Linked DNA regions of Homo sapiens. Each later gene encodes a partner of the first gene's protein in a complex. Each region holds a gene or a part of one and is shown on either strand. Other genes may lie near its edges. The genes, in order: YKT6, PTAR1 and RABGGTB. A codon is read from its position in the direction of its gene.

Region 1 (8,075 bases):
GGAGACTCAGGGAGGTAATGGTTTGCTCACTTTTGTGATTTTGTGATGTGTCAGTGCTGGGACTGAATCCAAGTTGGGTGACAGCTGGGGCGATGCAGCAGAAGGCAGGTCTTGCTTTTTGGTAACACAGTGAGCTTGGGAAGTCTGCAACCACATGACTATGAATGAGGCTTCCTGGAACAGTAGAGGCTGAGTGAGGCCAGAGAGGAGCAGGAAGAGTTGCCAGGAGTGGGCTGCATGACAGTTTGTTAAGCATTTCACTGTTGACATCTGAACCCCAACTCTGTCCCTTACCAACCATCTCCTTAAATTGAATCTCAGTCTCTATGTCTGTAGGGTGGCAATAATATTTTCCCCTGTTTTTGTGAGGATTAAATGATGTGGCACATGGAAAGTACTTGGCATAAGGTAAACTTTGGGACAGCCACTATAATGTGTCAAGTGGATACACTGAAATTTATTCCATCCAAGCGCTGTCTTCCTGATCTTTTTGCACAACTTTCAGTGGAAGGAAGAGGGGCTCCAGAGACTTTCCTCAGAAATGGCTCTCACCTGCCTCCTATAGGGAAATGGTGTCAGTGCAAGCAGTTGAGCCTGGACTGATAGCACCCAGCAACCCAGCTTGTCAGACTACTGTGTCCATATCTGTGGGTGGCTGAGCCTAGCCACGGCCAATGGCTGTTCCTAATGTTTACTACCAAAACAGGGGAAATGTGGAAAAGCCCTTTCCACCCTCTGTACTTGGAAACACCCAGGGAAGAGGGTTGGTGACAGAGGTACTGAGTGAGTGGGCAGGTGGTGGGAACTTCCTTTCACCACAGATTATTTAAAGCAATGTTTCTCAGCTGGGCGCAGTGGCTTAAGCTTGTAATCCCAGCAATTTGGGAGGTCGAGGTGGGTGGATCACATGAGGCCAGGAGTTTCAGACCAGCCTGGCCAACATGGTGAAATCCCATCTCTATTAAAAATACAAAAATTAGCCGCGTGTATGGATGCATTCCTGTAATCCCAGCTACTCGGGAGGCTGAGGCATGAGAATCGCTTGAACCTGGGAGGCAGAGGTTGCAGTGAGTGGGATCACACCATTGCACTTCTGCCTGGGCAACAGAGTAAGACCCTGTCACAAAGCAAAACAAACAAACAAACATATATATCTGCAAAGCAATGTTTCTCAAAACTACTGCTCCCAAAGGACATTTTGACGTTTTTGATTGTGCAGTGGGGAGGGGGTGGGTTGGTACTGACATTTCTACAAAGGCCTGAGATGCTGCCTACACAATGTACAGGGCAGTCTCCCAACAAGAAAGAACTATCTAACCCAAAATGTCAATAGTGCCAAGGTTGAGAAACCTTGATTTAGAGTAATGTTTAAAGTGATGCTGTTGTTTTTCCAATATATCATCTCTTTCCCATAATCTCAGATACGGCTGCTTCTAGCATCACAACTTTGTGACCTTACTGACAACTTCCAAAGACCAAGTTTCTTTCAGTTGTATGTGTCTTGCAAGTTCCTTTCTGATTACATGTGAAACTGTGCCCGACAGGGTTAAAGAAACTGGTAACTAACAGAAATCTTGAGCTTGTCTTGCAGGGCAGCCGATAAGGAAACAGTTTGCTATAATCCCCTCTGCTTATACAACTTGCTGGAACAGGTTGGAACCAATATGGCTGACTGGAGCCTGTGCAAAATAGACTTACTAGCCCGAGGAGCGGCCCTTTGATGTCACAGCCCAAATTCCCACAGCTTGTTTTATACCACCTCCTGAATCTGCATGTGACCCTTGAAGCAGCATGAAGAAGCAACAGCTCATGACCAAGAGATTTTCTAAACACTTCTTCGTTTCAGCCAATCACCGTCCAGCCCGAAACTCCACTTCCAAAATCTCTCCCTTAAATCTACTGCTGCGAAGCAAGTATTGGGAGACAGATTTGAGCCCGTCTTCTGTCCCCTTGCAAGGCTGCTTGGCAATACATCTTTCTTGCTACAAAAATCCAATGCTTGGGTGTTTGGTTTTATGTTGTGCGCAGGCAAATGCAGCCGGTTTAGTTTGGTAACACGTGATGTCACTTAATACACAAGAAACGGGCAAGATATGGCATCCTCAGGGAGCTGTGCCTCACTCATTCCTATCCATAGACTTGCCTTCTTTCAACAACGCAAGCAAAAAGAAGGGTTCATTTGGGTTGGTTCCAAGTCTTTGCTATTGTGAACAGTGCCACAATAAACATACGTGTGCATGTGTCCTTATAGCAGCATGATTTATAATCCTTTGGGTATATACCTAGTAATGGGATGGCTGGGTCAAATGGTATTTCCAGTTCTAGATCCCTGAGGAATCGCCACACTGACTTCCACAATGGTTGAACTAGTTTACAGTCCCACGAACAGTGTAAAAGTGTTCCTATTTCTCCACATCCTCTCCAGCACCTGTTGTTTCCTGACTTTTTAATGATCACCATTCTAACTGGTGTGAGATGGTATCTCATTGTGGTTTTGATTTGCATTTCTCTGATGGCCAGTGATGATGAGCATTTTTTCATGTGTTTTTTGGCTACATAAATGTCTTCTTTTGAGAAGTGTCTGTTCATATCCTTCGCCCATTTGTTGATGGGGTTGTTTGTTTTTTTCTTGTAAATTTGTTTGAGTTCATTGTAGATTCTGGATATTAGCCCTTTGTCAGATGAGTAGGTTGCAAAAATTTTCTCCCATTCTGTAGGTTGCCTGTTCACTCTGATGGTAGTTTCTTTTGCTGTGCAGAAGCTCTTTAGTTTAATTAGATCCCATTTGTCAATTTTGGCTTTTGTTGCCATTGCTTTTGGTGTTTTAGACATGAAGTCCTTGCCCATGCCTATGTCCTGAATGGTATTGCCTAGGTTTTCTTCTAGGGTTTTTATGGTTTTAGGTCTAACATGTAAGTCTTTAATCCATCTTGAATTAATTTTTGTATAAGGTGTAAGGAAGGGATCCAGTTTCAGCTTTCTACATATGGCTAGCCAGTTTTCCCAGCACCATTTATTAAATAGGGAATCCTTTCCCCATTGCTTGTTTTTGTCAGGTTTGTCAAAGATCAGATGCTTGTAGATATGCGGCATTATTTCTGAGGGCTCTGTTCTGTTCCATTGCTCTATATCTCTGTTTTGGTACCAGTAGCATGCTGTTTTGGTTACTGTAGCCTTGTAGTATAGTTAGAAGTCAGGTAGTGTGATGCCTCCAGCTTTGTTCTTTTGGCTTAGGATTGACTTGGCAATGCGGGCTCTTTTTTGGTTCCATATGAACTTTAGTTTTTTCCAATTCTGTGAAGAAAGTCATTGGTAGCTTGATAGGGATGGCATTGAATCTATAAATTACCTTGGGCAGTATGGCCATTTTCACGATACTGATTCTTCCTACCCATGAGCATGGAATGTTCTTCCATTTGTTTGTATCCTCTTTTATTTCATTGAGCAGTCGTTTGTAGTTCTCCTTGAAGAGGTCCTTCACATCCCTTGTAAGTTGGATTCCTAGGTATTTTATTCTCTTTGAAGCAATTGTGAATGGGAGTTCACTCATGATTTGGCTCTCTGTCTGTTATTGGTGTATAAGACTGCTTGTGATTTTTGCACATTGATTTTGTATCCTGAGACTTTGCTGAAGTTGCTTATCAGCTTAAGGAGATTTTGGGCTGAGACGATGGGGTTTTCTAGATATACAATCATGTCATCTGCAAACAGGGACAATTTGACTTCCTCTTTTCTTAATTGAATACCCTTTATTTCCTTCTCCTACCTGATTGCCCTGGCCAGAACTTCCAACACTATGTTGAAAAGGAGTGGTGAGAGAGGGCATCCCAGTCTTGTGCCAGTTTTCAAAGGGAATGCTTCCAGTTTTTGTCCATTCAGTATGATATTGGCTGTGGGTTTGTCATAGATAGCTCTTATTATTTTGAGATACGTCCCATCAATACCTAATTTATTGAGAGTTTTTAGCATGAGGGTTGTTGAATTTTGTCAAAGGCCTTTTCTGCATCTATTGAGATAATCATGTGGTTTTTGTCTTTGGTTCTGTTTATATGCTGGATTACGTTTACTGATTTTCGTATGTTGAACCAGCCTTGCATCCCAGGGATGAAGCCCACTTGATCATGGTGGATAAGCTTTTTGATGTGTTGCTGGATTCGGTTTGCCAGTATTTTACTGAGGATTTTTGCTTCAATGTTCATCAAGGATATTGGTCTAAAATTCTTTTTTTGTTGTGTCTCTCTCTGCCACCCTTTGGTATCAGGATGATGCTGGCCTCATAAAATGAGTTAGGGAGGATTCTCTCTTTTTCTTTTGATTGGAATAGTTTCAGAAGGAATGGTACAAGCTCCTCCTAAAATGTGGCACATATACACCATGGAATACTATGCAGCCATAAAAAATGATGAGTTCATGTCCTTTGTAGGGACATGGATGAAGCTGGAAACCATCATTCTCAGCAAACTATTGCAAGGACAAAAAACCAAACACCGCATGTTCTCACTCATAGGTGGGAATTGAACAATAAGAACACATGGACACAGGAAGGCGAACATCACACACCGGGGACTGTTGTGGGGTGGGGGGAGGGGGGAGGGATAGCATTAGGAGATATACTTAATGCTAAATGACGAGTTAATGGGTGCAGCACACCAACATGGCACATGTATACATATGTAACAAACCTGCACGTTGTGCACATGTACCCTAAAACTTAAAGTATAATAATAAAAAAAATGCTTACTTTAAAAAAAGAAAGAAAAGAAAAAAAAAAAAAAGAAGGGTTCAGGCCGCTGTGGGAGGCCCAGCACCACCCAGCACAAGACAGTACGGTATCCCGCCGCGCGCCCGACTCCACCTGGCGAGCAGGGAGGGGCCAAGCTTACGCGAGGCGTGGCATCCCGCCCCTCGCTGCATTGTACTTCCGGGCTCACATTTCTGCATCCGGAGTATGAGAACCCTCAACCAGGCTGACCGGATCCGGAAGTGGATTGCGAGCCAGGAGGAGGAAGCCGGCGGTGGCCCCGTCAGCAGCCGGCTGCTGAGAGGCCGGTAGGCGGCGGCGGTCCCGAGGGGCGGCGGCCGCGCTGCTCCCTGAGAACGGGTCCCGCAGCTGGGCAGGCGGGCGGCCTGAGGGCGCGGAGCCATGAAGCTGTACAGCCTCAGCGTCCTCTACAAAGGCGAGGCCAAGGTGGTGCTGCTCAAAGCCGCATACGATGTGTCTTCCTTCAGCTTTTTCCAGAGATCCAGGTGAGCGGCACAGGCTGGTGGGCCGTGGCGGTCGGGCGGAGAGGACTGGGGTGGGGGTCCGAGTCGGAGTGGGCCTGGGGTCGGCGGAGGGATGAGGGGAGGGTGGAGGAGGCCAAGGGTAGGGGCAGGGCGGGGTGGCCGAGTGCCCGGGGTCTGAGAAGGCTGGTGTCCGAGTCAGAGGCGGGGCGGGGTGGGGAGGGCCCGGGGTCTGCTGTCCGGGCTTGGTCTCCTATAATGGAATCTGGCCGTGGACTCTACCTTTGAGGAACCAACATTAGCTCTTTAAGAGCTTATACCATTCTAGAATATAGTTCTCTACTCAGTGTTTTTCAAATTTCTGTCGTGTAAAAATTTTAAGGAGACTGTGAAGTAGTGCAGATTTCCAAGCTTCATGCCAAGATGTTCTGAATTAGTAGATTGAGGCCTCGGTATTTATATTTTAGACCAACACTTCCCACCCAGTGATTCTGACTCTGGGAGCTTGGGTGCCGCATCTTGAGAGCCATATTTTGATTTTCTTGCGGGGCTTCCCAACAATTCTGTATGAGAGATAGTGATATACTTTTTTTTGTTTGTTTTTAATGGGTGAAGTCACTGAGGTACCAAGAGGTTATATCACAACCAGCTAGAACTGAAAGCCAGGTTTAACGCTTTTTAGTTGGACACTAGTGGTACAAAAGGATTCCACACGGAAGATGCAAATGAAGCATGGGATCTGTAGGGCTTACAGGCTTTTACTTGTTTCTGGGGCGCTTTAATTGCTGGAACGTGTTAGAAGTAACACAGACACTTCCAGACCATTCGTGGGAGGGATTGGGGTGACTCAGGCACGAAAGAAGGAGGACCCTACATGGTCGGTATCTATGGTCATCTTGTCTCAAAATCTGATGGAATCTGCCGTTTGGATTCTGTTTTCCCTGCTTCAGTGCAGCTGGTTCTTGATGAGAGTTCTTTGCCAAGGACTTGCTGGATGTAAAAAAAAAAAAATGTTATTTTGTTGAAACTTTCTGCTTCTTTGAGTTCTTTTAAAAAAATATTTTTAATTGTGGTAAAATGGTACACAAAATTTATCTTCACTATCTTTAAGCGTGTAGTGAGTGCATTGATATGAAATAGATTGATAGTGTTGTGCAGCCATCACTGTCAATCGTCTCCAGAACTCCTTTTTATCAAATTCGTGTCTATTAAACACATTCCCTTCTCCCCCAGCCCATGGCAACTGCCATTCTAATTTGTCTCTGTGATTTTGACTTTTCTGGCGACCTTAGATAAATGGAATCATATAGTTTTTGTGTGTCTGGCTTATTTCATGTAGCATAATGTCCTCAAGGCTCATGCATCTTGTTGCATATATCAGAATTTCTTTCCTTTTTAAGGCTGAATAATCCATTGTATTATTCACCACATTTTGCTTATCTGTTCATCTGTCAGTGGACACCTGGGTTGCTTCCACATTTCAGCCATTGTGAATGATACTGCTATGAACATGGATGTACAAATATCTCTTCAAGACCCTGCTCGCATTTTTTTGGTATTTACCCAGAAGCGGAATTGCTGCATTATCTTTTAGCTCCTTCTTGGGGTTCTTGGTCTTTGCAGTCTTTACCATGGCCTACATTCACTGCTCTGTGTTGTTGCTTTTCTCAGATGGAACTTTTGGTGCCAACTTGGCTCTGATTCTTTTTCCTTTTTCCTTCCCATTAGTACTTAAGATTCTCAGAGATTTCACTTGTAGGACTTATACCTCACCTGCTTGGGATGCCCACACTAGTTTCCAATGACTAACAGCTGCAACACTAAAGGGACATCTCTACTAATATGTCTTAAAACAACACATGTCCCAGCTGATTTATTTATTTATTTATTTTATTTTAGATGGAGTCTTGCTCTGTCACCCAGGCTGGAGTGCAGTGGCACAGTGTCAGCTCACTGCAACCTCCGCCTCCTGGGTTCAAGTGATTCTCCTGCCTCAGCCTCCCAAGTAGCTGGGATTACAGGCGCGCACCACCACACCCGGCTAATTTTTGTATTTTTAGTAGAGATGGGGTTTTACCATGTTAGCCAGGCTGGTCTCGAACTCCTGAGCTCAAGTGATCCGCCTGCCTTGGCCTCCCAAAGTGCTAGGATTACAGGCTTGAGCCACCACGTCCGGCCTGAGCTTGTTTTCTTATAAGACCGCTTTACTTACGTCCTTTGTGCCCTATAATTACCCGATTCCAAAGTTGAAAAAGTAGTTTCCCAGCTTTTTTGGTCTTTGTATACATGCTGTCACAATGCAGTTCTTCCTTTGTCTCTTTATAGCCGTGTCTCAAATGCTGTCTCTAGGTTTACTGCAAAGCCTTCCTTGTTTGAGGTCTTCTTTTCTGAGGGGTTATTTTGATCACTTCAGTCCCTCAAGATATTAACAAGTAATACTGTGTGTGCAGGCATTGTTCCAAGTGCTTTACACGTATTACCTCGTTTAACTGTTGCACAAATCTTGATTTTTTTAATGTGGAGGCACAGCACACAGGCCCAGAGTCAGGCCTTCAGTTACCTATATGGCTCTGCTGGAGCCTGCTGCAGACTCCCATTTGAGCACCCTGCTTTGATGGCCCTGGTTGCCCTTTATATCACATCCTCAGTTGGAGGCTCCTTGTCAGCACCTCTTCCTCTGGCTGTACCATCTCCTGTGACTGTTCTGTTCTGGATAGATCTCTCTGTTGAGCCCATGATGGACCTTCTCCCTTTCACCCTTTGTATGAGCCATTTCCCACTTCTTTGTCTTGGATGAGCAGTTTTCCTTTTGTTCCATCCAGAGTGTCTTGCGCTCGTTCTGTGGACGAGCC
Region 2 (7,759 bases), on another chromosome or scaffold:
TCAATAGCTACTATGGCTAGTGGCTACCATATGGAACAGCACAGACACAGAAAATTTCCACCATTACAGAAATTTCTGTTAGTGCCTTGGGTTCAAGAACTGTATTTTAAACTTCTATTTCACACAGTAAAGATGGTACCCACAACACTTCATAAACAGTGAGTTCAATATTTAATAGAAAAAACAATAACTTGCTGGATAAGATTAATTTTAACGTGACTGTTTACATTATAAACTGTTGTCTTCTACATTAGCACAGGGTCCATACACTAAGTTAAAGACTATCCCTAGGTCAAGTTTTCAGTTTTAGAGAATCCAATATGATTATCTAATACTCAACCATACAAACAGCATTTATATAGTATTATCCAGGTTTATAAAGTGCTTCATATTCACCAATCATTTGTCCAATATATTTTTGGTGAGGAACACAGAGATTCAGGGAAGGTCTAATATTTATTGAGTGGCAACTAAGTACCACTGTGTGAGGTGATTTTCCTGTTTTCATCAGCCTCACAAGATCAAGAGGAAACTGAGGCTGAGAGAAGGTACCTATTCACATCATACAGTAACAAAATCCACATCTCACCACTGCATCCTCAACTCCTTCTGGCTAAATATTTCTACATAAACAAAGTCAATGTATTTAATGAAGTAGATGTTGGCCAATAAAATTACAACCGATCTTAAGTTTGGACAAGAAAAACAAAAAAATTTTTGTATAATACTGAAAGTGTAATTAGATACAGTAAAGTTAGATACAAACGTTACAGATAAACAATGCCTTAAAAAAAAAAAAAGAAACACAGCCTCTTTATTTTGGGAGTAAATGGGCTAAATTAAGGGAAGAAAGCGCAGGCAATTTTTAAAAGCCCAAATTATAAGGCACTTACAAAGATGCATAGTAATATTATTGAAAATAGTTTTACTGTGGGGAATATGTATTCAAATATAGCTGATGACTAGTCTTAAACAATGAGTTAAGCTATTTAAATGTTTAAGACCTATATTACAAATCATTACATTATTCCGAATATCCAACTTATCTCAAAGTTTTAAATCTCGAATGACCCAAATCCTTATTACTAATAAATTATACATTGAGGATATATTAATGAGGTTTTACAGTAGAAAAAGGATTAGGGAGGGGCATTAAAGTCCTTTAAGAGTTTCCATAAATGTGATCCACAAGAACTGGGACATGTTCCAAACTGCACTGTGTTAAAAACTGCCAAGCCAATGAACATTCAATCTTGGTTTCTTCAAATATAATGATGCTCTTTTAGTCTACCTCAAAGAAGAGAACATAAGATGATTACGACATTTTGTATTAGATTTCTAATCTCTGCTGTAATTTCTTCTAGAAAAATACCAGTGATGAGAAAATACACTCTTCATTTGTCCAACTTTTTTTTTTTTTGAGGTCGTCTCTTACTTGCACTAAGGCTCCCATTCTCAAAAAGAAATCGAAAGACTGATATACAGCAAGGCATCAAAGCATTCTTTAGAAGGCTCAGCAACCACTATGGATACTGCCAGGAAATCATTCCAAACACTCTCATTTTGAAAAAGGCAGCAGTCATAAGGGGGAGGGAAGTGGATGCTGTCAGAGGTGGCAGGTGTGTTTTGAGGCCAGCAGTGTTTTGTTTTTAATGTGGCACAGTTGCACGTCTCCAATTGTGTGCCACAAGGGAGCAAAACATCCAACGGCTTCTTAACTGTTTTACAATCATCACCTTGGAGGAAAAGAACACTTTGGTAAGATACACGTTTGGCAACTTTTTTAGGCAGAAAAGCTGAACCGGTTAGAATACTTAAAAAAAAAAATCATGAGCTCCAGTCTAAAGAATAAAATAAAAATAAATTAAATAATAATAAAAAATAATAAACTAAAAAAAAAAAAAATAAACTCCAAAAACAACTAGCTAAAATGAAAGTAATGCAGAACTGGATGCCATGTTTCTTTTCTTTGAGGAGGAAGAGGTATGGGAAAGGAGGTACATTGTTGCTTCTTCCCTACACCTTTGTATAATGTAGATCTCTCTCTCTCTCTCAATAGCTTTCTTTTCACTTGTTACATAAAAGCAAAGTGTTACAAAAAGTAGACTCTTGCGGTATCTTCCCACAGTACTTCAAGTAAAATGGAAGAGATACATATGTCAGTTCTGCAGTGTCCCGTTAAAGAGGGCAGCAGTGTTGGGATAAAAATGAGTTAACATGCTCCTTGTAACTATGAATCCGCTTATGCTAAAAAGTATCAAGGTTTCATTTGCTTTATCCCAGACTCCACACTGCGCCCACAGAAGCTTCTCTTGAGAATGTTCTGTTCACCTTTCAAAACACAATGTATTATCGGAGTCACTTTACAATTTTGTGGCAAGTAAGGCTAAAGTCAAAAGCAGCCTCAAACCACCTTTAGTTAGTAAACTGAGGGGTTTGAGGCTCATTAAAAGTAAGAGGATCGGTTACCCCCTCTTGCCAACGTCCGGGATGAATCTCAAGAGTTGTGTTTACAAGGCATACACGGACCCACATCGTTGTGTGCGCCCGAGTACCTTAAACACAGGAAGGATGTCGACCTACGGGGGACGTCTCTGGAGTTTCGTGAACTCCTATGAAAAGGTGGGGAGGGACAGAGAAAGTAGTTCCGTTTTGATTTTTTGAGGTCACTTCTAGGGACTCGACCGCGAGCGCGTCCCGGTAGCGGAAAGCCGGGCCAGCGGCGGCCGACAACGGTCCCGCCCGACACGGCTCTGCCTCCTCCCTAGAAGGGCTCGTGGGCCAGGACCCGCTGTCCGCCCGCCGCCCGAGGTCGGGTGGACGCTTGGCCCCGCCCCCGCCCGCTCCCGACGACCCTCGGAGGCGGCGGAGGCGCGCGACTCACATGTGTGGGTTCCTCCTGAAGGCGTTAGTGATGTCCTTCACAACCCGCTGCACCAGCACCGCCACCTCCTCGCTGGTCTCGGCCATGTTGGCGGCGGCCGCGACAGTTCGGGCGCGCCTCCGCGTGAGCCGGGCCGCCGGCGGGAGTTCCGCGGAGAACGAGCGCGCGCGCGCGCGCGCGGGTGCTTCGGCTAGGCCGCGTCCCCGCCGCCGCGGCCGCCGCCGAGCACTTCCGGGTCAGCCAGTTGGCGGCCTGGGCGTGGCGTTAGCTAGGGTTGGTGGCCTTCCAGTGAGTGGAGAAGTTCGCCTCCGCGCGGGTAACGGACTTTCTAAGCGTCAGAGAAGATGCTGGACATTTGTTTGCAAAGTTCTCTCAGGCCTCCGATTTTCTTATTTTAAGTTTTAGGCGAAACCTCAAGACACACTCCCAGAGAGTCAGACACCTTCCTGAACCCCCCCAGCAAGGTCCCCGGGCATTCCTGAAGGAATGTTCAACTGAGGATGCAGGGCCTCTTAACAGTTAGTCCCGGGCGTTTTTCAGAGCTTGTCTGCTTTATTTTCCCAGCCTGAGAGATGAAGAGGTCCAGAGGCATTGCGGCGGAGCGAGTCCCTATTTGACCGTGTTGGTGACCTCCTTTCTAACTGTGCCAATTTTTGTCTCTGAACTTGAAAGCAGCCTTTTTAAAAAACATTAATTAAAATTCTTAAATTTATTAAAGGAAGAGAAAGGAAAGTGAAGGAAAAGTTATTTGCCATCTGTATGTAGGAAGTAGAAGTGAAATCGTTTTTAGATTTTTCGACTTCATTTTGTACTGCATTTGGTAGCCTTTGCGTCAATTTTGGAATTTAAAAAAAAGGATCAAGGCTCTGACAGGGTTTGTTCATAATAGCAAAAATAAATTTTTGTAGGAAAAACGAGCTTTCTAGTTTATTTAGGATTTTGAAATGCCATAACTAAAATTTTTGTGTATCAGGTTTTCTTTTGCACCTCTGGTAGAAAAATCTGGCTGCCCTTGGTTCAGTTTTATTCTTCCACCCTTGAAATCTGGCCAGGTGCGGTGGCTCACGCCTGTAATCCCAGCACTTTGGGGGGCCAAGGCGGGCGGATCACAAGGTCAGGAGATCGAGACCATCCTGGCTAACACGGTGAAACCCCGTCTCTACTAAAAATACAAAAAAAAAAAAAAAAAAAAAAAAGCCGGGCGTGGTGGCGGGCGCCTGTAATCCCAGCTACTCCCCACTGCACTCCAGCCTGGGCGACAGAGCGAGACTCCGTCTTTAAAAAAAGGCCGGGCGCGGTGGCTCACGCCTGTAATCCCAGCACCTTGGGAGGCCGAGGCGGGTGGATCATGAGGTCAGGAGATCGAGACCATCCTGGCTAACAAGGTGAAACCCCGTCTCTACTAAAAATACAAAAAATTAGCTGGGCGCGGTGGCGGGCGCCTGTAGTCCCAGCTACTCGGGAGGCTGAGGCAGGAGAATGGCGTGAACCCGGGAAGCGGAGCTTGCAGTGAGCCGAGATTGCGCCACTGCAGTCCGCAGTCCGGCCTGGGCGACAGAGCGAGACTCTGTCTCAAAAAAAAAAAAAAAGAAATCTGTATCTTTAAAAAGCTATTAAAAAAATAAACTCATGGTGTGTTTAATGTGAACATATGCGGAGCGTTTGAAGTAGTTTTTATGATTGTAAAAGTAAAAGCTATCTATTGCATGTAAAGTGAATGAGAAATATAAACGAAAAATATAAATTTACTATACTCAGTGGCCAGTATTTCCTGTGGGTATGTTTATAAAGGCTGGAGTTAGCCTTCTGGTTGTAAAAGAAGTGAGATAGGACCGGGCACGGTGGCTTACACCTGTAATCCCAGCACTTTGGGAGGCAGAGGCGGAAGGATCACGAGGTCAGGAGTTCGAGACCATCGTGGCCAAGACAGTGAAACGCCGTCTCTACTAAAAATATAAAATTAGCTGGGCGTGGTGGCACGTGCTTGTAATCCCAGCTACTTGGGAGGCTGAGGCAGGAGAAGCGCTTGAACGCGGAAGTAGGAGGTTGCAGTGAGTGGAGATCGCGCCACTGCCCTCCAGCCTGGCGACAGAGCAAGACTCCATCTAAAAAAAAAAAAAAAGAAGTGAGATAGAAGTTTCACAAAATTGTAGCCAGCAAGGTGGGACAGGATTAAGAATTAGTAAAGTCGGCCGGGCACGGTGTCTCACGCCTGTAATCCCAGCACTTTGGGAGGCCGAGGCGGGTGGATACCTGAGATCAGGAGTTTGAGACCAGCCTGGCCAACAGGGTGAAACCCCGTCTCTACTTAAAATACAAAATTAGCTGGGCGTCGTGGTGCATGCCTGTAGCTCCAGCTACTTGGGAGGCTGAGGCAGGAGAATCGCTTGAACCCGGGAGACGCACGTTGCAGTAAGCCAAGACTGTGCCCTGCACTCCAGCCTGGGCAACAAAAGCGAAATGCCATCTCAAAAAAAAAAAAAAAAAAAAAAGAAAGAAAAAAAAAGAGTTAGTAAAATCAATCAAAATTTAACCGATAACAAGTTCTGGAGTGAAGCAGTGAAAAGAGTGGAATGTGTGTTTAGATTTCAAGGCAAAAGACAACTTTAAATATCCTGATTAAGAATGTAAGACCAGTTCTTAAATTAAAATTCTTAAACTTAGTAAGTTTTCTTAATCAGGACCTTGCATCCTAATGGCAGTGGGAAATAAATCCCAATTTCTGGAGGCAGAGATCAAAGCAGCACACTCAGAAATAATGATTTTCCCCGAAAGGCTTTATTTAACAGGGAAAAAAGAAAACTTTGTCCCCAAATTTTGATGTAAAACAGCTATTTCAGAAACAGAATTCCTCTGTATGATTCTGTGTATGCCCTCTCCACATGCAACCTCTTTATAGTCATTTGAAAGGCATGCATTGTATCTTGTTTCCTCTAAGAATTCACAAATTGTTTTACCCCAATTATTAAGAATCTACTATGTTTAGAACTTGTTTTTTTTTTTAGAATTGGAGCATAATTAGAACTCTGAGCCAACTCTCTAATTTTACAGATAAGAAAACAGAAGTCCAAAGGATTTAAGATTTGAAATTCATAAATCCTCAATAATGATATATATGTATACAAGAATAGGGCATAATAAATTCAGCGTGATTTTGTCGAAGGACTACAAGATTTATGTTCATTTATTGATAATAAAATACAGTAAATAACTTAAATGCCCAATGAGAGGGGATTGATTAAATTATAAATTTATATGGTAAGATGCTATTTAGTATTTGAAAATGTAGGGGTGGGTTGCCCCTACACACTTGTGGGTGTTTCTCGTAAGGTGGGACGAGAGATTTGGAAAAGAAAAAGACACAGAGACAAAGTATAGAGAAAGAAATAAGGGGACCCGGGGAACCAGCGTTCAGCATATGGAGGATCCCGCCAGCCTCTGAGTTCCCTTAGTATTTATTGATCATCTGTGGGTGTTTCTCAAAGAGGGGGATGTGTCAGGGTCACAAGACAATTGTGGGGAGAGGGTCAGCAGACAAACACGTGAACAAAGGTCTTTGCATCATAGACAATGTAAAGGATTAAGTGCTGTGCTTTTAGATATGCATACACATAAACATCTCAATGCTTTACAAAGCAGTATTGCTGCCCGCAGGTCCCACCTCCAGCCCTAAGGCAGTTTTTCCCTATCTCAGTAGATGCAGCATACAATCGGGTTTTATACCGAGACATTCCATTGCCCAGGGACAGGCAGGAGACAGATGCCTTCCTCTTGTCTCAACTGCAAGAGGCATTCCTTCCTCTTTTACTAATCCTCCTCAGCACAGACCCTTTACGGGTGTCGGGCTGGGGGACGGTCAGGTCTTTCCCTTCCCACGAGGCCATATTTCAGACTATCACATGGGGAGAAACCTTGGACAATACCTGGCTTTCCTAGGCAGAGGTCCCTGCGGACTTCCGCAGTTTTTGTGTCCCTGGGTACTTGAGATTAGGGAGTGGTGATGACTCTTAACGAGCATGCTGCCTTCAAGCATCTGTTTAACAAAGCACATCTTGCACCGCCCTTAATCCATTCAACTCTGAGTTGACACAGCACATGTTTCAGAGAGCACGGGGTTGGGGGTAAGGTTATAGATTAACAGGATCTCAAGGCAGAAGAATTTCTCCTAGTACATAACAAAATGGAGTCTCCTATGTCTACTTCTTTCTACACAGACACAGTAACAATCTGATCTCTCTTGCTTTTCCCCACATGAAAATCACATTATAACTAGAGGAATATATACCAAAGTGTTAGAGGTATTTTCATAGGACAATTTGACTATGTAATGTAAAGAGCAAAGTAACATTTGTAATTTAAGAATTTTTTTTTTTTTGAGACGGATTCTCACTCTGTCGTGCAGGCTGCAGTGCAGTGGTACAGGTTCAAGCGATTCTCCTGTGTCAGCCTCCTGAGTAGCTGGTATTACAGACACACGCCACCACACCTGGCTAATTTTTCTATTTTTAGTAGAGACTGGGTTTCACCATGTTGGCCAGGCTGGTCTCGAATTCCTGACCTCAACTCCTGACCACCCACCTCGGCCTCCCAAAGTGCTGGGATTACAGGCTTGAGCCACTGCACCTGGCCTAAGAAAAGTTTTTTAAATTATATATTAATAAGGAGCTGATATATTTGTTTGTTAATTAGCCAAATATATTATGTGCATACTAATTTTCTTACAGATATATTGATTTTTTTAAGTGACCATGTCTATTATTATCATTTACATGGTTGTGAATATATTTTGACAATCTTCCTACCCACTCCCAAAAACCACACGTTTCTTATTTTAGAAGACTAATTGATGATAGAGGAAAATGTGGATATGTAATG
Region 3 (6,435 bases), on another chromosome or scaffold:
GGGAGGCCGAGGTGGGTGGATCACAAGGTCAGGCTGGTCTCCAGCTCCTCAGCATGGTGAAACCCTGTCTGTACTAAAGTAACATAAAAATTAGCCGGGCATGGTGGTGTGCGGCTGTAGTCCCAGCTACTCGAGAGGCTGCGGCTGAATTGCTTAAACCCGGCAGACGGAGGTTGCAGTTAAGCTGAGATCGTGCTGCTGCGCTCCAGCCTGGGCAACAGAGATTCTGTCACAAAAAAATAAAAAAGAGTGATTGTACCCATTTTAGCTTTTTAAGAAAAAGACAGGTGCAAAAAAATACTGTGGTGACCATCAACTTACCCGTTAGTGTTTCCTTATTTGAAGACAACTCCTTCTTTGGGTAATTCTGATATATAAAATGCTAAAAAAAAAAAAAAAAAAAAAAAAAAAAAGGACAGTCCGAATCACAACCCCATTTTAAGATGGTAGATTGCCATTTAACCTAAGTCTGTGACCAATTCAGAATAACCATATTCAAACCTATCAATCATTTCCAAATTTCAACAGCCATTTATTTTGTGCATCATTTAATTCATGTATGGGTTCTATCCACTTTCATCAGTTAACATTCTTGTTGACAAACCAATTTACATCAACTTGCTATAGAACAGATGAAAGGTATACATGGGGGAAAAATCAAGTAGAAACCTAGAGTTATTTTATGTTAGCTCAGTTATTGAACATAACAGACACAGAAGTATACACAAAGAACTGTAGTCAGAATAACAGGACTTCAGAATAAAAAGCAGAAAATAAAATACCGGTCTTTATTTTACAATATGTATAATTATATAATTTATTAAAATTAATTTAACACAATATACAAAATATTAACAGTAGTCACTTTTAGATTCGATAAGCACTTCAAATACAGAAATGTTAAAATGGCAAAACTATACTATGCAACTTTCAATTCAATGAATCTAGCTCACTAGCTCAGGCTGAACATTCACTCTCTGAAGCACTTCTTCAGGCATGCAAAAGACAGGATTAACAGGTTTAATCTGTTCTTCTCCCAAAAGTGACAATCCAGCAATTCCAAATAAGGTATGAAAAGGATCCACCTATTTAAAAAAGAATTTATATACAGATCACAAAATGAAAACTTCTTTAACTTCAAATTATGAATACCTGACCTTTACCATATACTAATTTTGTTAGCAACAAGCGACAAGAAATTTCTGTAAGATTGTTCTATATCCTTCATACACTCTACAATAAATAGAAAAAAAAACTGCTTTCAAAGCAACACTCGGAATGCCACCCTGGAAATCCATGGAACCATGAAGTAATGCAAACGCTGAAATAATTTATAGAAATATGTCAGAAATATTACTTGCCATATCTCCTGGCCTGTCTGCAAATCCCCCCGTTTCTTCATCTTGACATGCTAAAATGAAATTACGCAGTTTCTCTCTATCAATCCAATGAAGTCTTCCAATTATCTTTAGGGAAGCCAGGACCCACCATGAGTAGCATACATCTGGTAACTAGGAGGGAAAAAAGTTGCCACAATTTCATTCTCTTTTATTTCCCTAATTTTGAGAACAATTTAAAAGTGGGTTAAGTCTCACTCTTAGGTAATCTGATGTTCAAAGTGTCAAACCATGTGGAAGGACGAAATCCAGGGATATACTGATATGCAGGGTATGAAATACTTGCTTAGAATGAAAGATAATCAATTAATGGGTAAGAAGAGACCAAACTTCAATTCATAGGTAACCATGCTAAATATCTCAGTACTCACTGATAAGCATGCATCTGCTTTGTTTCTATCTGCAATGAATGCCTAACTCAGCCCCTTAACCAAGAAGCTAGCAGTATAATCATGAAATCCATGGGTATAGTTCTGTTTTTCTACAAGCACTGTCCAGGGGGGTACACACCTGCTTAAAATCAACTAAACCCTTGCTCTTCAAAATATGGTGACAGAAGTCTATAAAGAAAACCCCACTCAAGGCTGATCTCATTTTAATGAGATCCCTGAGTAACTCATAGACTCATTAGAAGCTGCCCTAGATTGTGTGCAAGTGCAGGTCCCGGTGCTCCCCACGGCCACCCATTTTTCTGTTGACAGTTCCTCAGGCTTTTTATTTCACTCTATTGTAGACAGCTACTGCGGGTGTTTCTCTACCCGTTGTTATTCAGAAATACTAAGGTTTAAAAATAAAAATACAGGCCGAGCACAGTGGCTCACGCCTGTAATCCCAGCACTTTGGGAGGTTGAGGCGGGTAGATCACCTGAGGTCAGGAGTTCAAGATCAGCCTGATGAACATGGTGATACCCCATCTCTACTAAAAATACAAAATTGGATGGGCGTGGTGGTGTATGACTGTAATCCCAGCTACTGTACCACCACGTCCCATTCAGAGGGCAGGGGCACAGCAAGCTACAATCCTTGAGTCAAATCTATAGTGTAGGAATAGTTTTTACATTTATAAATCATTTAAATATAGTCCTGGGTCAGGCACGGTGGCTCACGCCTACAATCCCAGCACTTTGGGAGGTTGATGCAGGCAGATCACGAGGTCAGGAGTTTGAGACCAGCCTGGCCAATATGGTGAAACCCCGTCTCTAATAAAAATACAAAAATTAGCCGTGCGCCTGTAGTCCCAGCTACTTGGGAGGCTGAGGCAGAACTGCTTGAACCTGGGAGGCGGAGGTTGCAGTGAATCAAGATGGCGTCACTGCACTCCAGCCTGGGCAACAGAGCAAGATTCCATCTGACATAGGAAATACAAGTATATCCATCCATAATAATTGTAATTGGAACACAGCCATACTCATTCATTTCTTACCACTTATGGCTGCACTTGCTCTACAGGACAATTACATAGTTGCAAATGAGTATTCACTATTTGTCCCTTACAGACCTGATAAGAGAGACCTATTATGTGGAGGAAAATTTAATAATCTTCTCTCCAAACCAAATTATCTGGGTATTCCTTAAATAAGAAGATTGCAAACAAAAATTCTGTAGTCTAATTTTTAAAAAATCCAATTTGCCAAAATCAACTGTCCTTAAACATGGAGATTCCTGTACAAGACTGTCTGGAAATGGACATTAGGATCAATGAGTATTTCAACTCATGGGGGTCTACTTTGTCAAGGGGAGTCTTTTAGTAGGATATATTACTGAAAATTCACAACAGGGAAAGGTAATAAATAAGCTCATGGCCAATTTACAATATAGAAACAGGCAAGACAAAGCAGCAGCATTCACTCAAGGTTCTAAAGCTAGCAGAATATGGCTTATCAAACAATACCTTCTCCGGCCTTCCATTGAGCCCGCCTGAGGGTAATTGTCGTTCACAAAGCCACCAGCCAAGTAAATCAGAATTTACTTGATGCAACTGACTTGTAATTGCCAGAAATCCTGTGCAACAATAGATCTAAAATTACAGACATAAAGTTTATGTGTATAATAATTTCTTGACATTAAAAGTGATAAAACTCAAATTATTAAAACACCACTTTATATCTTAAGTTTTTCTTCTTGATCTGACACTTAAAATTCCAAACATGTATTAATACCACATATCTGAAAAAATCCAAGCATACTATTACTAGTATGCAATTCTGCACTGAAATATTATTGTCAAAATTTCTTCATGGCTAGTATTTCACAGCCATCCATTCACATATTCAGTGTTCTCTGGCACAAGAAAAGAGGTTCATAATTTATCTTAGGAAAGAAAGAAAAATGTGTTGTTTTTTTTTTTATCTGTATGGTTAGTGAAAAATTAATGGAAAACAAAAGTGTTTTGGTGCTTATAAACCCACTTATGTTTGCTTAGGTCAGACGAATCCACCGACAGAGAAAGGTATATAGTATATAAAGCAAAGTAATGATAGCAATTAAGCAATTCTTATGTAAGATGCCCTATTACAGTCGAATTAACTTTATGTGTATTTGACAAACACTGAAATAACCAATTTTCTTATTTTACTACACTGGCTTCCAAAATGACAATACATTTTCATCTGTATTCATAAATTACCTGCCCAGCATGGGATTCAGAACCTGGTCTGCAACCAAATCCACCGTCAAAGTTCATACAGGATAAAACAAATTCGATTGCCTTTTCCACATTAATAGCATCAAGCTTCCCCTACAAACAAAAAAAAAGATGCCTGTTAAATTCCAGAGTATTCAGCAGATCAGACTCAAAAAAAAAAAAAATTCCAGAGTATTCATGAACTTTAATCATTTCAATCAAATATTCAAAGCTTACCAACAAAGCCAAAGTTGCCACCGCACAAAAAGAGAATCTTGTGTCAATTTCTCCTACAATAAAAATAGATCAAATCAAGGCAGGTGTTACCAAATCATACATGAGTCATCTAAAAACAAACACTGCACAACTACCACTTTAAATTGAGTTCAAGCTTAACTTTCACTTTAGGGTAGTCAGGAGGAAAGCTAAATCTGAAGTGCCTTTACTTCCCAAGAAAATTCCTTTGTCAAAAATAACAGCAAATTGACCAGGCACAGTAGCTCTTGCCTATAATTCCAACATTTTGGGAGGCTGAGGTGGGAGAATCACTTGAGCCTAGGAGTTTGAGACTAGCCGAGGCAACATAATGGGACCCCATCTCTACAAAAAACTTTTTAAAAAAAATTAGGTGGGGCTGGGCATTGTGGCTCAGGCCTGAAATCCCAGCACTTTTGGTGGCCGAGGCAGGAGGATCACATGAGGCCAGGGGACCCCATCTCTACTAAAAACACAAAAACCAGCCAGGTGTTGTGGTGCACATCTCAGCTACTCTGTAAGCTGAGGCAGGAGAATTGCTTGAGCTTGGGAGGTGGAGGTTGCAGTGAGCCAAGATTGCACCACTGCACTCCAGCCTGGGCAACAGAGCTCTCCAGCCCCAGCAACTGTCTCCCAAAATACTGCACTCCAACCTGGACAGAGCCAAGACCCTGCCACAAAAAAGTAACAGCAAATTATCTTAAGCTGCTTAAAGAAAGCCCAGAAAGAGAAGAAAACCAAAGAGAAGAAAACTAATAGAACCCAAAGTATTAGTCCATTTCTAATAATGAAATAAACTTACCCTACTTTATAAAAGTAGATTTTTCACATCCCATGAAGCAGCTGGTCTCTCTGGCCTGCACTGTGTTCATCCCTAAAGCAGAGATTATCTACGTTTATCAAATAAAATTCTATTCCCTCCCTCCACTCAAATATTCAGCAAGTTTGTAAAGTTTTTTTTTTTAAATATTTTTCCCTTTCCAGCAAGTAGTTTTTAAAAAACTTTACAAAGCCACCAAATATTGGGGAAAAAAATTCCACCTACCTTATCTTTTAGACTGGCCCCCTCTGTTCCAGTGCTCCTGTATATGCTGATATAACTACCACAGTGCATGCTGGAAGTTCCAGCAGACCATTAACTCCAGTTAGACCAGCTGCTTAGTGGGACCTGAAAAGATGAAAAACTTATAAACTGGTTACTAGCAAAACCAGTACATTTTAATATTGGTATTTTGGGTAGAATGGACTAAATCTGACATTACCCCAAATATCTCCAGCAAAAGAACCATCTTCTTTCTGTAGACCTTTAACATATTCCACAACTTTATTTACGTCAATAACATTAATACTGTCATACAGCGTAAGAATCTGCAATAAAGACAAGTATTAGGTAAATGTCCCTTTCAGGTTTATTCTAATGATCTTATGCTCAACTCTTTTTAAGTTGTCAAGCACATCCTTTTGTCTCTGTGTATATAACCTTTTCTCAAATATGCAGACTCTCCTGTTATTGAATAAAATTAGATAGTATCAAGAAAACTCAAATCTTTAAAGTATAATTTTCTACATATAAATTTTAACTTGGCATTCCAAGATACTCAAGTATACTAACTCACATCCACACAAAGTCCTGATCTTCCCATCTCAGCACCCAGTAGTACCAGAAAGACTTTAAACCACCAGGTAGATGTTCACTAATATCAAAATCAAATAGCTCCATTTAGCTATTTTACAGTATTTACACATACTGAAGATAAAAATTTTACCCTCCAAGGTCTCAGTGTAATTTTAGAACTCACATCAACTTTAGATTCAGCTAATACATGCCATTACATCATTGACCTTGTAGGACAGCTTCACTTGTAACAAAACTTTTTGACCAAATCCTGATACAGTTTCAATTTCCAACTCTGAAGTAAGAGAACATACTATCAAGATCGTTGCAATTTTGATTAGTATTTACCTGGACAGCACTAAGAGTGTATAAAAGATGAGGATCATGTCCGATACTAGCACTTATTCCACCACATTCATGTTGGCAAGACTTAATAAATGCCAGAATCTCTTCTCTATTCATGCGATGAAGTTGTCCCATGAGATCCATTACTGTCAGACCCCAATAGATGCCACTCATTCTCAAATACTCAGACATACAGTATT

The links.
Region 2: the proteins of YKT6 (region 1) and PTAR1 are in contact, whole or in part, in a crystal structure (PDB 6J7F), measured with the Homo sapiens proteins. Residues at the interface, in NP_006546.1 of Homo sapiens: Met1 (codon at 5,144), Ser29 (codon at 5,228), Phe30 (codon at 5,231), Phe31 (codon at 5,234), Asn83, Glu84, Pro86, Gln131, Asn132, Pro133, Arg134, Gln180, Phe184, Arg189, Ser193; in NP_001093136.1 of Homo sapiens: Glu31, Gly33, Leu34, Ile35, Pro36, Val48, Val50, Glu51, Lys53, Leu54, Gly55, Ser58, Lys135, Tyr191, His225, Ser228, Met229, His230, Val231, Ser232, Asp233, Phe298, Asp301, Leu302, Ser305, Tyr306, His309.
Region 3: the proteins of YKT6 (region 1) and RABGGTB are in contact, whole or in part, in a crystal structure (PDB 6J7F), measured with the Homo sapiens proteins. Residues at the interface, in NP_006546.1 of Homo sapiens: Lys60, Gln62, Asp63, Leu65, Asn83, Glu84, Tyr85, Pro86, Ser87, Leu153, Asn155, Thr156, Glu158, Arg189, Lys190, Cys194, Cys195; in NP_004573.2 of Homo sapiens: Thr3, Pro4, Gln5, Lys6, Asp7, Ile9, Lys11, Tyr37, Leu45, Trp52, Leu236 (codon at 1,511), Asp238 (codon at 1,505), Cys240 (codon at 1,499), Arg281 (codon at 1,376), Gly283 (codon at 1,370), Asp284 (codon at 1,367), Met285 (codon at 1,364), Asp287 (codon at 1,082), Phe289 (codon at 1,076), His290 (codon at 1,073).

What each region holds. Positions count from the first base shown.
Region 1 is NC_000007.14:44,195,993-44,204,067, forward strand, and holds the start of YKT6 (synaptobrevin homolog YKT6), read left to right. Parts: upstream 1-4,985; 5' UTR 4,986-5,143; coding exon 5,144-5,247; intron 5,248-8,075. UniProt on the Homo sapiens protein: Vesicular soluble NSF attachment protein receptor (v-SNARE) mediating vesicle docking and fusion to a specific acceptor cellular compartment. Functions in endoplasmic reticulum to Golgi transport; as part of a SNARE complex composed of GOSR1, GOSR2 and STX5.
Region 2 is NC_000009.12:69,756,969-69,764,727, forward strand, and holds the start of PTAR1 (protein prenyltransferase alpha subunit repeat-containing protein 1), read right to left. Parts: upstream 3,044-7,759; 5' UTR 2,971-3,043; coding exon 2,885-2,970; intron 1-2,884.
Region 3 is NC_000001.11:75,789,160-75,795,594, reverse strand, and holds the end of RABGGTB (geranylgeranyl transferase type-2 subunit beta), read right to left. Parts: coding exon 6,239-6,435; intron 6,119-6,238; exon of another isoform or gene 6,048-6,118; intron 5,644-6,047; coding exon 5,538-5,643; intron 5,444-5,537; exon of another isoform or gene 5,321-5,443; intron 5,150-5,320; exon of another isoform or gene 5,078-5,149; intron 4,311-5,077; coding exon 4,258-4,310; intron 4,135-4,257; coding exon 4,024-4,134; intron 3,415-4,023; coding exon 3,289-3,414; intron 1,512-3,288; coding exon 1,362-1,511; intron 1,086-1,361; coding exon 945-1,085; 3' UTR 509-944; downstream 1-508. UniProt on the Homo sapiens protein: Catalyzes the transfer of a geranylgeranyl moiety from geranylgeranyl diphosphate to both cysteines of Rab proteins with the C-terminal sequence -XXCC, -XCXC and -CCXX, such as RAB1A, RAB3A, RAB5A and RAB7A.